2 separate regions of the Homo sapiens genome follow, and region 1 is linked to region 2. The links come from fine-mapping of genetic effects on gene expression. A gene starts in region 2. The other region holds a variant in brackets. All regions are shown on one strand. Distances are between the middles of the regions.

Evidence for each region. PIP is the estimated chance that this variant, and not a neighbour inherited with it, causes the effect. A credible set is the group of variants that fine-mapping cannot tell apart.
Region 1: its variant is the best candidate, but not a certain one, in a credible set for the expression of FURIN in whole blood (INTERVAL, PIP 0.58).

The regions. Positions count from the first base shown.
Region 1 is chr15:90,819,058-90,827,380 of GRCh38, reverse strand. No RefSeq gene overlaps it. Among named protein-coding and RNA genes, the nearest start is that of FURIN, 45 kb to the left of the region's middle. RefSeq lists an enhancer at 1,197-1,796. The variant G/A (reference allele first, on the strand shown) is at 4,120.
Region 2 is chr15:90,864,871-90,873,193 of GRCh38, reverse strand. FURIN (furin, paired basic amino acid cleaving enzyme) reads right to left here and starts at 4,606. Exons shown (of 16, transcript NM_002569.4): 1 at 4,483-4,606. RefSeq lists enhancers at 375-424, 685-874, 3,141-3,435, 3,373-3,482, 3,221-3,515 and 2 more and silencers at 975-1,614, 1,655-1,864.

The DNA.
Region 1 (8,323 bases), 46 kb after region 2:
TGCTAAACTTCCCTCCTTCTCCTTTCCCGCCTCCCACCCGGCCCCAACATCCCCTCTATTGTCCAGCCCCAGCCTTCTGCTGGCACAGCCCTGACCAAAAGCGGGGTGTGGGGGGTTGCCCACAGCGGCCCCCAAGTGTCCCTGGGACGCGTGAATCACGACAAGGGTTACAGCTTGCCAGGCTCCCACTGCACACGAAGCACATTTGGACATTGCAGACTCTGCATCTCTGTGGCAAGGACTGCCACAACCCCCTTGGACCCAGGAACCCCCAGGAGGAAGCGCTAGTACCGGGTGTCAATGTGGCTACCCAGCGCCCGCTGCTTCTGAAGCTAACCTCGAATGCGTCGCCCACATCCATGGCTTCTCTTCTGGGCGCTTCACAGTAACCGTGGAGTAAGGTGGGTAAGTTACCGCTACTCATTTTCCTTGAAATCCCATTTCTCAGGTGAGAGAGAAAAGCTCAGAGAGGCCAAGGGCTCGGGGCAGCTGTGGTGCCACGCCCAGCCCTTTGGTCTGAACTGCCCCATAGACTGCATACAGGTCCCATTGTGTCCGGACTTGGTGGGTTCTTGGTCTCACTGACTTCAAGAATGAAATCGCAGACCTTCACGGTGAGTGCTGTAGCGAGTTCTACAGTTCTTAAAGGCGGCGTGGCCGGAGTTTGTTCCTGACGTTCGGATGTGTTCGGAGTTTCTTCCTTCTGATAGGTTCGTGGTGCGGCTGGCTCAGGAGTGAAGCTGCAGACCTTCGCCGTGAGTGTTACAGCTCCTAAGGCGGCGCGTACTGGAGTTGTTTGTTCCTCCCGGTGGGTTTTTAATCTCACTGGCTTCAAGAGTAAAGCTACAAACCTTCATGGTGAGTGCTACAGCTCATAAAGTCAGTGTGGACCCAAAGAGCAAGCAGCAGCCAGTTTTACTGCAAACAGCAAAGCTTGCATAGTGTGTAAGGCAACCACGGCTGGCTTCGGCAGCCCGCTTTTATTCTTTTATCTGGCCCCACCCGCATCCTGCTGATTGGTCCATTTTACAGAGAGCTGATTGGTCCGTTTTGACAGGGTGCTGATTGGTGCGTTTACAATCCCTGAGCTAGACACAAAAGTTCTCCACGTCCCCACTAGATTAGCTAGATACAGAGTGTCCATTGGTGTATTTACAAACCCTGAGCTAGATATAGAGTGCTGATTGGTGCATTTACAAACCTTGAGCTAGATACAGAGTGCCAATTGGTGCATTCACAATCCCTTAGCTAGACATAAAGATTCTCCAAGTCCCCACCAGATTAACTAGATACAGAGTGCCGACTGGTGCATTCACAAACCCTGAGCTAGGCAGAGGGTGCCGATTGGTGTGTTTACAAACCTTCAGCTAGATACAGAGTGCTGATTGGTGCATTTACAACCCCTTAGCTAGACATAAAGATTCTCCAAGTCCCCACCAGACTCAGGAGCCCAGCTGGCTTCACCCAGTGGATCCCCCACGGGGCCTCAGGTGGAGCTGCTTGCCAGTCCCGCGCTGTACGCCCACACTCCTCAGCCCTTGGGCGGTCAATGGGACTGGGCGCCATGGAGCAGGGAGCAGCGCTCGTCTGGGAGGCTCGGGCCTCGCAGGAGCCCACGGTGGGGAGGGGGAGGAGGCTCAGGCATGGCGGGCTGCAGGTCCCAAGCCCTGCCCTGCGGGGAAGCAGCTAAGGCCTGGCGAGAAATCGAGCACAGCAAATGCTGGCCCAGGTGCTAAGCCCCTCACTGCCCCGGGCTTGCGGGCTGGCCGGCCGGCCTCTCCGAGTGCTGGGCCAGCCGAGTCCACGCCCACCAGGAACTTGCGTTGGCCCGCAAGCGCCGCGCGCAGCCCGCACCTCTCCCTCCACACCTCCCAGCAAGCTGAGGGAGCCGGCTCCGGCCTTGGCCAGCCCAGAAAGGGGCTCCCACAGTGCAGCGGTGGGCTGAAGGGCTCCTCAAGCACGGCCAGAGTGGGCGCCAAGGCCGAGGAGGCACCGAGAGCGAGCGAGGGCTGCAAGGGCTGCCAGCACGCTGTCACCTCTCACCATGTCCTGTCCGCTGCCGACCGGCCGCCTCCTGAACCCCTTGCTGTCTGTGATGACGCAGAACCACTGTGCGTCCTAAGATCATAGGCAGCCTGTCGTCACGGCTAATTGTAATGATGCTTCCTCGCCAGGGTTTCATGCTTCTGAGTGTGCACTGCCGTCCGATTTTGTTGTTTTCTCTTGGCTTTGGAGAGGGCTTGGCTCTCAGCAAAGGAGATGTGGAGTGAGCCACTCTCATCTTTGCCCCAGTGCTTTGGTGCCTGGGGTGCCCGGGGTGTCCCTGGGAGTGTCTGTGCTGTTGAGGGCACCTGCTGAGGCCTGCATCATCTTCCCTGAGGCAGAATCTTACAACTTTCGGGGGTTGCTGGCTCCTTTGACAACCTGAGAAAGATGGTGGTCCCTTTCCCAGAAATCTGCAGAGACACACAAGAATAATACATGCACTTGAGGGGTTTAGATACCCTCTGACATCTATTTCAGGATTTTCCAGGGGTTCCTAGAGCCTGGATTGAGACCTATATTATGGGGTGTTGTCTACCTGTTCTGCCAATTTCTAGAGCTCCAAAACCTGGATGCTTACATTATGATTGGATAGCTGGGTGTAGCCATGCCTGAAGAAGGCTTCTTTTTTTGAGACTGATTCCATAAAAGGATTAGTTTGAGAATGGCTGAGACCCACTGAGTGAAAACGATGTCCTGTTTATTCACCAATCAACTTCTGCACAAATATATGCGGCAAACAATGAGTACATATAGTGTCTACGTATTACAGTACAATAACCTTCACTGAGATCCAGACACTCCGTTATGGGCTGAGCAGGCATTATCCTATTAGTCTTCATAATCCCCCAGTCGACCCTGTGGGGGATCTGTCAGAGTGGTGGGAAAAACTATAGGGAAAGGATGCAAACCTTCCGAAAGGTCAGAAGGTTTTGCAGAGCCCTGGGGGAGAATAACTGAAGGCAGCTGTTCTATAACCCTGAGGCAGAGGGCAAGGAGTAGGTACAAGGGAGTGTGGGGGAATTTATCTTAAAAGGCTTGTTTGTTTATGTTGTCCAGGAACTGACCTTTGATCATGCGGGTGTGAGGTTCCCTGAAAGGGGAACAATACCTTTTTTTTTTTTTTGAGATAGAGTCTCACTCTGTCACCCAGGCTTAAGTGCAGTATCACTGTCTCTGCTCACTGCAACCTCTACCCCGGCAGGATTCAAGCAATTCTCCTGCCTCAGCCTCCCGAGTAGCTGGGATTACAGGTGCGTGCCACCACTCCCAGCTAATTTTTGTATTTTTGGTAGAGACGGGGTTTCACCATCTTGGCCAGGCTGGTCTTGAACTCCTGACCTCATGATCCACCTGCCTTGACCTTCCAAAGTGCTGGGATTAGAGGCGTGAGCCACCGTGCCTGGCCACAGTAATTGTCAGTTACCTGCAGGTCGTGTCGGCTCCAGGTTTTCCACATTGTGCCTGCACTGAATAAAAGCAAGCAGCTCCAGCTTCTTGGGGCTGCTCTCTGGCCACTTGAGCCAGGCAGTCACCCAGCTGCTCTTATGCTGTATGCCTGTGTCTGAGAACTCATTTCATCCGTTGGCCAGGGTCTATGAGACAGATCTGGCACCACCCCACAGTATAGTGCTGTTATGAGCTCCCTGAGGCACAGAGAAGTTAAATAACTTGCTCAAGGGCTGAAGGTCACACAGCAGGTGGTAAAAGTGGCCTTTGACCCCAAGCAATCTGACTCCAGGGCCATTCAATAGTCTAAGAAATTGCAGGCCTGGCATGGTGGCTCATGCTTGTAATCCCAGCACTTTGGGATGCTGAGGCGGGCAGATCACCTGAGGTGAGGAGTTCAAGACCAGCCTGGCCAACATGGTGAAACTCTGTCGCTACTAAAAATACAAAAATTAGCTGGGCGTGGTGGCTGGCACCTGTAGTCCCAGCTACTTGGAAGGCTGAGGTACATGAATCGCTTGAACCCAGGAGGCAGGGGTTGCAGTGAGCCAAGGTCGCGCCATTGCACTCCAGCCTGGGTGACAGAGCGAAAGCCTGTCTCCAAAAAAAAAAAAAAAAAAAAAGAAT[G/A]GAAAGGAAATTGGTAGGTGAGGCTGTCCCCCATCCTGTTCTGGGACTTGAATCTGTTCCCCGCTCAGGCCACTGGATCCTGCTGGGGCCCAGGCAAGAAAAGCGGGCTCTAGACCAACCCTGCAATTGCATTTTTCTAGAAAGCCTTCATCACACGTTGCAGCTTAAGGTCCCAGTCTAGGGGTTCTCAACGGACTGTATCTTGAAGTGGCATTTGCCTGGCCCGGCAGGGAGACAGGACTCTGTTCTCAGGCAGATTTGGGTGGTAACATGACCTCATTTGACTCCCAGGCTGGCAGGGCCTGGGAAATATCAGTTTATGCTTGTTTCCAGAGTTTTAAAGGAGGTTTCCTTTGCCTCTCATACACTGCAAAATGCCTGCTTGGAGTGATGCTTTGCTACTTGCTTCCTGGTTGCCGAGTCTCCCTTTAAGTTCTGAGTCTCTCTCTAAGAGGCCCTTTGGTGTTGGAAGGGGCTTAGAACCCTGGCTTTGTCATGAGTCCCTTTCCTGAAAACAGCTCCCGTGCAAGGCTGTTCCACTTCCACATTCTCAAACACCCTCCCTCCCACAGATCCCCAGCCCACCCCGACAGTCTTGTCCAACTTGAGGATGGAGGTGACAGCCATCACGGAGTCTAATGCCCTCACTTTTTTTTTTTGAGACAGGGTCTCACTCTGTTGCCCAAGCTGGCGTGCAGTGGTATGGTCATGGCTTACGGCTCACAGCAGCCTCAACTTCCCCAGGCTCAAGAGATCCTCCTGCCTCAGCCTCCTGAGTAGCTGGGACTATAGAAGCACATTACCAGCTGGGCTAATTTTTAAATTTTTTTGTAGAGACCGGGGTCTTGCTATGTTGCCCAGGCTGGTGTCAGACTCCTAGGCTCAGGTGATCCTCCCACCTTGGCCTCCCAAAGTGCTGAGATTACAGGTGTGAGCCACTGCACCCTACTCCCTCACTTTTGCAGATGGGAAACCAAGGATGAAGGAGAGGAGAATGCCTTGCCCAAGACCTCAGTGCTAAAATTCTCGGCAGCTGTGGTTTGTATTCACCTGGGGCTGGCAGCATCGGGACCACCAGGAGACCCGGTGGAAATGCACACCTCTGGGGCGCACTCCAGACTTGCTGCATCGGAAGCCATGGCACAACCAGCTCTCCAGGTGACTGAGGCTAACACAAGTTTGAGAACTACTGCCCTGGCCCTTGCTTTCTCGGCTGGGACTGACGTTCTGCACAGGTAGGACCCAGTGACAAACTTTCACCTCCCAACTGCTCCATGTACCTTGGTCCCCACAAAAGCCTTCCTCACACACAAGTAAACTCCAGAAACAAAGGATAGGAAAGAGCTAGAAGCAGACACTGGTGGTTATGAACATCTTCACATGATAGACAATGCAGCTCCAAAGTGAGGAAAACTGGCTTGCTATTTCAGCACAAACAAGACGCCAACCAGCCAAAAACATTGGTACACAAGCAAAAGAAAACCTAGGCCAGGCACGGTGGCTCACACCTGTAATCCCAGCACTTGGGGAGGCCGAGGCGGGTGGATCACCTGAGAGGTCAGGAGTTCAAGACCAGCCTGGCCAACATGGTGAAAACCCATCTCTACTAAAAATACAAAAAATTAGCCGGGTGTGGTGGCCCGCGCCTGTAGTCCCAGCTACTCGAGAGGCTGAGGCAGGAGAATTGCTTGAACCCAGGAGGCGGGGGTTGCAGTGAGCCAGAATCCCACCATTGCACTCCAGCTTGGGCCACAGAGCAAGACTATCTCAAACAACAACAACAGCAACGAAAATAAAAAACAGAAAGGAAAAGAAAACCTAGGCTGGGCATGGTGACTCCCGTCTGTAATCCCAGCACTTTGGGAGGCTGAGGCGGGCAGATCACCTGAGGTGGGGAGTGTGAGACCAGCCTGGCCCCCATGGTGAAACCCTGTCTCTACTAAAAATACAAAAATTAGCCAGATGTGGTGGTGCACGCCTGTAATCCCAGCTACCTGGCAGGAGAATCACTTGAACCCAGGAGGCGGAGGTTGCAGTGAGCCAAGATCATGCCACCACGCCACTGCATTCTGGCCTGGGTGACAGAGTGAGACTCTGTCTCAAAAAAAAAAAAAAAAAAGAAGAAAATCTAAGTGAAAACTGCTGAAGCCAGCTGGAAAGCGGCTTCTGTTTGTCCAGATGAAGCCAGCAGAAGTAACAAGGGAGCCTTCAGTGACCTGGGGCTCCGTCCCCACTGCCTGGTGCTGGCCGTGGGGCTGCAGGATTTTAAGGCCCTGCCAGCCTGAGGCCCCGTCTCCTCCTCCTATCTTATCCTCCCATGAGAAGGCAATGAGACAGATGTCTTCGCAGCGCCCCTTCACCCACTCACCCGCCCATCCGCTCATCTATCCATCCAACAAGCTGTTATTAGGCACCGGCTGTGTGCCAAGTCCCTGGGGCTGGAACCCAGATCTGGGGCAAAGGTACAGACCCTAAGCTGAGGCCTGTGGAGGGAGTGGCAGGCCCTGTGGGGCAGGGGTCCTGGCAGGTGTGCTGGGGTCATCCCCATTGTGCCGCTCGCTGGGCTGGGGCTCATACAGCCAGGTGGCCCAGCCTAGAGTGTGCATATCCTCACAGTGAGGCGGTGGCCAGGCTGGCACAGGGCACTTTCTGCTCAGGAAAGGGGTCCCGCGGGTGGGTGCTGTGTCCTTTCTGCTCTTCCTAGGTGAGGAGGGACCACAAAGGAGAGCACAGGGTGGCTTCAGCGGGGGTGGCTGGACACTGGGATGGTCAGCCTGGAGGTCACTTGGCCGTTTCAGCCTCCTGGGCACCCTCCCCAACTCCTGCTGGCCCAGGTGCCCTGGGGTCTTCACCCTCACCCCACTTACTCCAACACTGCTCTCTCCTTCCCCCGGGGCGTTTCCCTCCCTGCCTGTGCCCTGGTTGAAGGCTGAACCATGCCTGGAGCTCTGCTCTGGTTAAGAAATGTTTGTGGAATATCTGACCAAAAGGATGCTGCAGCAGCCCCGGAGGCCAGGACCAAGTGGCATGTTGATGGTGCAGATGAGACACTGGGACTCTGAGAGGCCACAGAACTTGCCAAGGGCACTCCATGGCTGAGGAAGGGGCCAGGTCCCGCCCATTCCAGACTGGCTCTCACTGGGTGCAAGGGACCTGGTGGCGACGGTGGCCGCACGGGTCTCTGTCCTTATATGCACATCCAGCCATGCAGGCGGGTGTCTGTGGTGGGGCTGGCGTGGGCTGACCTCCGATCTCCCTGGTGCTGACTGCTGAGTTCATCTTTGAGGTTAGCAGTGTTAACTGCCTCCCTGTCACAGCGTCTCAACGCTCCCACAGTGGTGGGGGCCACAGCGCAGGGGGCCACCCCTCTCTGAGCCCGAGCAGGGCTCTGGGCAGAAGTCCAGGAGTCTCTCAGTGTCTCTGATGTCCTTCCTTCTAGGCGGGGGTTTCAGATCTGGTAGTGGTGGCTCTTCAGACCCTTACTCCGCATCAGCAGTTCCCGGGGCACCATTGCCACCTCCCACCCCAAGAGTCCCTGCTCCAGGTTCTATCCTACCAAGGAAAGTCTTCCCTACAGGAAGCAGGGACCTGAGCTCTCTGCTCCACTCCTGGCCCAGGCATAGTGCCAGGGCCTGACCTTCATGGGGCCTTGTGGCTCCTGGCAGGGACTGAGTAGATGGGGCCAGGACAGGCAGATGCCTGTGGCCTGTGTGTGTGACAGGCCCTGTGTGTGGGACCCATGGGGACAGACAGGCTCTCTGGGGTGAACTCCCACATCCTGAATAGATCTGAGCCTAGAGACCATCAGAGTGCCATCCTGGCACCTTCCCAGGCGTCACCGAACCCTCTGTGGGGCCGTGGATCCCGGCACCTTCCCAGGCGTCACCGAACCCTCTGTGGGGCCGTGGAACCCGGCACCTTCCCAGGCGTCACCGAACCCTCTGTGGGGCCGTGGATCCCGGCACCTTCCCAGGCGTCACCGAACCCTCTGTGGGGCCGTGGAACCCGGCACCTTCCCAGGCGTCACCGAACCCTCTGTGGGGCCGTGGAACCACACAGTTGAGGTGTGGCGATGCCAAAACCTCGACCTTGACCTTGGCTAGCTGCAGGGACAGCCTCAGGCCTGTGCGGGGACGCCTCACCATGGCTGGGGCTTTCTGGACTCTACTTCGGGCTTCTGTCTACCTTCTTGTCCTGTCCTTCT
Region 2 (8,323 bases):
GCATGTGGGACAAGGGAGGATCCCCGAAAAGAGTAAGAACTGAAAACAATGAATGAATGGGTTTCTCCCCACCCCCATCCCAGACTCTGACTCACCCTCTAGTCCCAGTTTGTCTCAAACCTGGAGGCTTGCTGTATTTCTCATGGTCTTGTTTCACATGGGACTCTGTTCCAGGCTGTGGCCAGAGAGAGCTGTGGGTGCTCTTCCTGGCTGTGTTCTTGGGCAAAGCCCTTTTCTCCAGCACCAGAACCTCCTGACACAGAGAGCCACTCTGGGCCACTCAAATTGCGCCTCACCCCAGGACCGACTGCTGTTTCCCAGACACTGGGGGTCTGGCTCTGACACAGCCACAGAGCAGGCCACGGGAGGGCCACTCGGACACCCAATCAGTCTCTCCCTCTAGCAGAGACACCACGCGGGGTCCTGTTACCAGCCCTGGGAGGCTCCCGTGAATTTATCGCTCCCAGTCCCTGCCCACTATTTGCTGGATGATCTTAACAAGTCACTTCCTCTCCCTGGGCCTCAGTTTCCTTGGTGGTAAAAACTGCTGGACCAGCGGCTTTCAAACTTTTTAAAAAGCCACAGAATCCTTTTTAAAAATCAAATGCTCCGTAGAAGCCCAATATAGGAAATAGTAAAACGAGGGCTGCCCTGCTTGAGAAGAGGTCAGGCTTGGCTAATCTCCTATGCTGTGTCCACACCTGCTCAGCACCCGCCCTCACCAGGCCATATCACCCGGGTTCTCCTCGCACTTCCCAAGTCAGAATAGGAATCCCAACACTCTCCGGTGGATGAGGGTCTGCACCCCAGGGGCCAGGGGGTAGAGGATGATGGGAAAGCGGGTTCTGACCAGACAAGTGACTGCCGTCAGACCTGTCTGGCAAGCAGGCCGCCCCTTGGTCCAGCCACACAGCGGGGGCACAGGGGCCTCGGCCAGGCCGCGGCAGAAGGCAGCCCAGGGACCTACCTGCGCCGGCCGCCGGCGCCCGCGGATCCCGCACCCGAGTCCTGGCCGCACAGGTGTGCGGGCGGGGGCGAGGCCCAAGCGAAGGAGCCCCCGCCTCGCCCCCGGCCGCTCCTCCCCTCCCCGGGCGGAACGCAGGCCCTCCTCGGCCGCGGAGTGGGCGAGCCGGCGGCAGCCCCGGTGGCGGCGGGGAGGCTGGAGCACCCGGCGCCTGCGGAATTTTCTCCCCATCCCGCCCCCAGCAGGGGCCCCGCAGGCGCTTCCTGAGGTCAGAGGGCTCGCCCTGGCCCCACGCGGAAAAGTACCAGCCACGGCCGGGGGGCCGAGACGGGCCCGGCGCGCTCAGGTGGGCTGCGGAGCGCCCTGTCTGCTCCCGGCAGCTCCACCCTCGGGGCCGGCCCCGGGGCCAGTTCCGGAAAGCCGGCGGGCAGCCGGGCCCCGGGGGACCCGGGTCAGGGCTGCACCGGCGCCAGTGCCCCGACCCTCCCCGGCCCGAGCACCCGGGCCGCGGAGCCCGCTCCTGGGGCAGAGCTCCACGGCCCGGCCCGGCCGGCTCCCCTCGGGCCCGGCTCCCAGACGCGCTTGCCTTCCCCGGGCCCCGGGCCCCGCGCCCTCGCTACTTACCCTGGGGAGCCCTGGCGGGGAAACTTTTCCAGGCGACCGCCGCGGCGGCTCGGGCGCCCCTCGGCCGCCCATGCCGCCCGGGCCCGACTGCGGGCCCGCGTTCCCAGCGCCGTGGGCCCCAGCGCGTCCGGCCCCGCGCGGCGGCCCTGCGGGGCCTTCTGGGGCGCCCGCTGCCTCCGGCTCCTGGTAGGGGCAGGTAGGAAGTGGGGCAGGCGATCCCAAAGTCCTCGCGGCCGCCCGGCGCGTCCCTCAGGCCCCGCTGCCGTGCCCCCGCCCCCGGGCTCGGCTCTTCGCCCCGCGAGCTCCCCGGGAAGACGGCCGCGGAGACCCGAACTCGGAACCAAAGGGAAAGGCTTGGGGGAGGCACTCCGAGCCCTGCCTCAGCCGGACTCTTGGGGGACTGGCCCTCTCCGTCCCCCGCTTCCCCACTCCTGGGCGACGAATTTGAGCCTGACCGGGTTAAGTGCCCAGGGACGGCGGACCTGGGGTCCTCCACTCCCAGGTCGAGGGAGGACTGCACGGCGGCAGGACCAGCCTCCTCTTGGCCTACTGTTAGAGGAGTCACGACTTCGTCTGCATTTGTATAGACAGGTGGATATATGAGCAGAAGTAGCCCACCTCCTTTTAATATTTTTAGCTTTTTTTTCTTTTTAGACACCAACCGCTTGCCAGGCACCAGGCCAGTCACTTTACATTATCTCCTTCTTATGTACATGATTTAATCCACATAATCCTTTCAGGCTGAGATTATTAATCCCATTTTACAGATAAGGAAACTGAGGCGCACAACGTTTAAATAATTTGCGCAAAGTCCCACAACCAGCAGACCTCAGATCCTGCAAGAGACTGGGGTGTTTGGCAGAGCCTGAATCCAAGCTACTTGCAATATACCAGCCGGAGCCTCTCCCTCCCTGGGCCCTAGAAAACGTTTGTGCTACTTGGCTGAGGCCGACGCTGCTTGAGCTGAGAAAGAAAAGAAGGAAAATGTGGCCAGGAGCTTCCCAGGCTGGGTTATTCCAAGGTCGCAGAGTAGCCTGTGCCCATCTCTTCTCGCTCCCTGTGAGATAACCTGGCTGCACAGGATCAGCCTGTGGCCTCCTTAACACAGGTTCCCGGGTAATGGGAAAAAAAAAATCCACTGAGTGTTTTCTATGAGCCAGGCACCATTGAGAGCTCTTTTCCTGTGTCAACCCGTTTTATCCTCACCACATGCCCCATGAGGTGGGTACAGTACATTTTCCTTTAAGTACCTTTGATGTATCACTGTCTGCATTTTATAGAGGAGGAAACTGAGGCCCAGAGAGGTTAAATCATGATAATTCTTAAGGCAACTGGTGAAAAATCAATCAGCAAACCGGTTCAAATCCCTGGGGCACTATTTTTTGCTGGGACACCTTAGACAAGTTAATTTCTCAGGGACTTCCTCAATTTACCCCTCTATAAAATGGAGATAATATTTAGTGAATGGGATCAGGTACGATTCGGGCACCTTTACAAACACTGCAAGAACTGGAAACTGGAGGAACAATGCTGGGTCCTCAAAGTTGAGCGGGAAGATAAGTCCAGTTGGCCTTGTCCCAAAGTGGGGACTTCCCCTCCGCCAAGGAACTAAGACTTGTAGGGGCCACACTGGGTAGCGCCAGCCACAGTTGGGAGAACAATACTCCAGCAGTCAGACTGAGGCAGGAAGTGACTCACGCTTCTTCCTTAGGCTGTGAGCAAGAGAACTCCATTGAGGGGAAACAGGGACAGGGCTGGCCCCACCTACCCACTTGTCCTCAGGCCTAGAAGAAAGGTCAGCCCAGAAAAATAGCAATACTTGCTGCTTCAGGTGCCCCACCCATCCTGGAGACTGGCCCCAGGGGAGCCCGCAGTGGGTCTTTGGAGGGGGAGGGGCTAGCCTAGGCTCAGATGACTGCCACCCAGGCAGAGGCGGTGGGAAGTGGAGCTTCCCAGTTTCTTCCAGCCAGCTTGCCTCTTCAATCTGCATAAGGCAAAATTCTTTAAAGTGGGTTCTCAGAGGTGCCTCCCTGAGAGGGAGGAATGAGGACAGGATTGGGCAGTTGAGCACCTCTCTCTGCTTCACCCAGAGTGTCTCACATTTTAGGGTTTCACATGAGATTGTATTTTACAACAATTCTGCTGCTAAAAAGAATTTGAAAGCCACTCTCTGTGAGACTTCTCTGGAAAAAAATCCCATTTGACCACAACTGGTGACTTCTGCCTTTATCTCATTGCAACAAGTCCTGTGGGCAGGTATTGTTCTCTTTATCACTCTCAACTGGCCCTGGAGCCCAGGTCTCCTGACCTGGGGCCCTAGGGGCCCAAGGTCCTCTGGATCCCACCTTACCAGTTTTACACAGCAGTTAGCAGGACTTGGGCATGTGACAGAAGTCTGGAGATGAGTGAGAGGAGCAGGGCCTGATGGGTAAGTGGGGGCTGTAAAGGGGCTCCATTTTCCCAGCAGGGCTCTGGGAGGAAGAGTCCAGCTAGGCCTCTCTTTATCCTTGATTTGGGGCTAATCCAGAGAGGCTCCTGAGAATCACATAGTCCTAAATCCACCCAGTCATCCTGACTCCAAGCACTCCTGTTGTCTCCTTGGGGTGCTCTGGGAGTCTTCTCTGAAATCTCTGGTCCACCTCAGGCACAGCAAATAAAGCCTTCGGCAGCAGCACCCACACCTAGTTGTAAGCAGAATGTCTACACAACATTCAGACGTGCATAGAAGGGTGCACAACAAAATTCCATTGGTGTTCTCTCCGAATGAAAGGGTCACATTTGCGATCTTTGTTTTCTTCTTTTTGCCTACCTGCATTTTTCAGGAATGTCTACAAGAACTCCTAAAATAATTAAACCTTTAAGTCAATGCAAAATCGAATAAAGCATGTCCATACTTCACCATCCAGCTCCAGAGCACCTGGGATTCATCCTGGCCGCTGCTGCTTCCCCGCCACTCACTGCAGCTGCAACAGTCAGGCTCCTATCCCTTCACAGGGCGGGGCCCTTCCAGTTCTGGCTAAACCACTTTGGGAAAACCTTCTTTATATGACAGGCAAACAGGGTGTCTGTGGGTGGGGGGAGGAGCTAAAAGTGATGTGGTGGTGACATATCTGGTCGCACTGGAACTGGATCCTAACATGGCCAGCCAGCCCTTCTCATTTTCCTCATTTATTGGGGTGGGTCTGCACTTACCTTCTGCCTGGCTTTGCTGCATCCCAGCCACTGGCTGACTTAATGACTTCCTTCCGCCAGCTCCAGCTCCTTGTGTTCTGCCTTGCCTTCCATGGCCAGCCAGTGCTGCCACAATTATGTACCTAATAAATGCTTTGGGTGCAGTCTCGCCTGGCAGACATTCATTGAGCAGCTGCTGAACGCTGGGCTCTGGTGCCCCATAGCTGGGTCCCTTAGAGCTTGTCCATAGGAAGCCAGAGACCACCTCTCTAGTAGGGTTGCATGGAGGTACCTGGGACACACCAGGGTCTTCCTCAGTCTGCGACCTCCCTGGCCTTCCAGCTTCAACAAGCCTGCTGCCCATCCTTCTCTCTCTCGATTCAGAAATGTGAATCACTCAATCCTCATAGTTTTTTTTGTTTGTTTGTTTTATGGGTTTGTTTTTTTTTTTTCTAGACAAGAGTCTCGCTCTGTTGCCCAGGCTGGAATGCAATGGCCTGATCACAGCTCACTGCAACCTCTGCCTTCTGGGTTCAGGCGATTCTCATGCTTCAGCCTCCCAAGTAGCTGGGATTACAGGCTTACGCCACTCGTATTTTTTTTTTTTTTTTTTGTATTTTTAGTAGAGATGGGGTTTTGCCATGTTGGCCAGGCTGGTCTCGCACTCCTGACCTTAAGTGATACACCCACCTCGGCCTCCCTAAGTGCTGGGATTATTAGGCGTGAGCCACCACGCCCGGTCCCCTTGTTGAGTTTTCAATCAGTTTGTCATCCTGAACAGGGTTTCTCAACCTTGGCATTATCAACATCTTGGGTCGGATAATTCTCTGTAGGGGACACTGCACTCTACATTGCAGGATGTTCAGTCGCATCCCTAGTCACTAAACATTAGCTGCTAGTAGCATTCCCGCTCCCATGATGACAACCAAAAAGATCTCCAGGTATTGCCAAATGTCCCTTGGGAGACAAAAATCTCTCCCAGCAAAGAACCACTGTCGCAGAATGAGGAGTGGGAACGTCACAGGATGGTGGTTAGTGTGCCAGGGTTCGAGGCAGCAAGAGTTGTCTGCTGGGAACTAAGCTCTGAGACAGCTAGCAGTGAGGGAGAAAACTCCCAAACTTGAAACTGCCCAGTATGCCAGCACAACAATGGGCCGTTTAGTGATCAGGGCAAACAATCATGCATCCTCATGACATCTGAGATCACTTTCCATCGTGTTGGTGATAATGCTGAATCAAGGAAAGGATCAATCATGTTGATCATACTCCATTTTCTAAGGTGGGGAGGTGTGTGAGCCCTTGTAGCATTAAAGACGTATTTGGAAAACAGATCAGTGCTTGCTTGGGGAAGGGGGCAGGGAGGGGCGGGAGGAAACTTTTGGGAATGATGGACATGTTCATTATCTTGATTGTGGTGATGGTTTCATGGGTGTGTCCATATATCAAAACATATCAAGTTGTACACTTTAAATCCATGCCGTTTATAGTGTGTCAGTTATACCTCAGCAAAGCTGTTTTGAAGATGTGTTGTTTAAAGTTTTAGTGCTTGAAGGGCATTATTTTGAAAATTCACTACTGTGGAGTAGTCCATTTCTTTGCTGAATAAATAAGGGGTCACTGTAGTACTTAAAAAGAAAACAGGAAGAAAAAACAAACAGAAGAAGAAGAAGAAAAGCGATCATGGGCTGTAAGGTCGTCCTAGGCAGGGAAGGAAAGGAATGGCGTGAAGAGTTGGCTCAGTCGCCCCTGAGTGTGGCCCGGAGAGCCTGTCCTCTGGCCTACGGCAGGCCCCAGAGAGTCTTTCCGTTGACTGATGCCATCAAATCAACATGTCTGGAACGGTATTATCAGGGACTTGGGAAAAATAGAATGACAAATGTGCTGGCTGCCAGGAAAGGAACAGATGAGTCTGGAAATTATAGGCTCCTCCACAAACTTTAATCCCTAAAACAAACATTGCTGGGGAAAAAGTCAGTTAATACCTGGAGGAGTGTGAGTGCTGTCCTTCAATGGGGCACGGCACACCTGGGAGCAGAGAGCATTTACAGAAGCCAGACACCGTGTGCCAACCTGTGTCAACAGGCTCATGCTCAAGGGGCTGCACGTGGCAGCAGGGAGCACTGCGAGCGGCAGTGAGGGGCCCTCTCTGACGGTGCAGATGCTTTTTGGCTGATGGAGACCTCTACGGAGGTTCTCAGGAGCCCCTCAGCGAGGCGGGTGAGCAAGGAGAGGGGCTGTGATAGCGATGAGTTATATGTGAAAAGAAAAACTGCTTTTGTGGAGGTTGATTGTGCACTGGGCATTTCATTCACTCATTCCTCAGATACTCATTGAGTGCCTGCTGGGTGCAGGACCTCTTCCAGTGCTTCAGTTATAGCGAGGGAAGCAGGCAGTTCACAGGTGAATAAGCCAGTTTATGAGAGAAGTTCAGATCATCCTAAGAGCTCTGGAAGAAAATGATAAAGAAGGTAATGTGGGAGTGCCTGGGGAAGCGGGAGGGCTGCTATCCCTGGGGTGGTCAGGGAAGACCTCTGGGAGGAGGTGATGTTTGAGCTGAGGCTGAAAAAAGAGGCAAAAGTGTAAAGATCTGGAGGAAGAGTGTCCCAGGCAGAGGGAGAGGCAAGGACATGGGCCTGGGGGCATGAGCTTATGCACTTGGGGAGCAGACACTTCTTGGAGCATGGCCGAGAGATGAGATGAGAGGTAGGTAACGGGCTGGATCACAGAGCACTTGCCAAGCTGGGTCCAGATGTTGAATTTAATTATCAGAGCAATGGGCTCTGGATTCTCAAAATTCTTTTGGAAATTTGACTGATTTACCCTTTAATAAAAATTATTTATTTATTTATTTAGAGATGGAGTCTTGCTCTGTCGTCCAGGCTGGAGTGCAGTGGCGCAATCTCGGCTCACTGCAACCTCCACCTCCCTGGCTCAAGCAATTCCCCTGCCTCAGCCTCCCGAGTAGCTGGGATTACAGGCACACACCACCACACCCGGCTAATTTTTTTGTATTTTTAGTAGAGACAGGGTTTCACCATGTTGGCCAGACTGGTCTCGAACTCCTGACCTCAGTCAGTCCACCTGCCTCAGCCTCCCAAAGTGCTGGGATTACAGGCGTGAGCCACCGCGCCCAGCCATTTTATTTTTATATTTTTAAATTTAATTTAAAAGATGGGCTCTCACTCTGTTGCCCAGACTGGCCTCAAGCAATCCTCCTGCCTCCCCCTCCAGAGGTGCTGGGATTACAGGCGTGAGCCACCGTGCCCGGCAAATTTACCCTTTTTAAAGGCTCCTCTGACTACCATGGGGAGTAGAGATATGGGGGTTCGTGTGGGAACCCACCACAGCCCGACGCAGGAGGCACCATAGGTGACCCTCCTGATGTGAAATGTAGGGGACTGGCTTGGGGGAGTCCAGTGACTTTTTTTTTTTTTGAGACAGTGTCACTCTTGTCACCCAGGCTGGAGTGCAGTGGTGCGGTCTCAGCTCACTGCAGCCTCTGCCTCAGCCTCCCCGAGTAGCTGGGATTAGAGGCATGTGCTACCACGCCCAGCTAATTTTTTG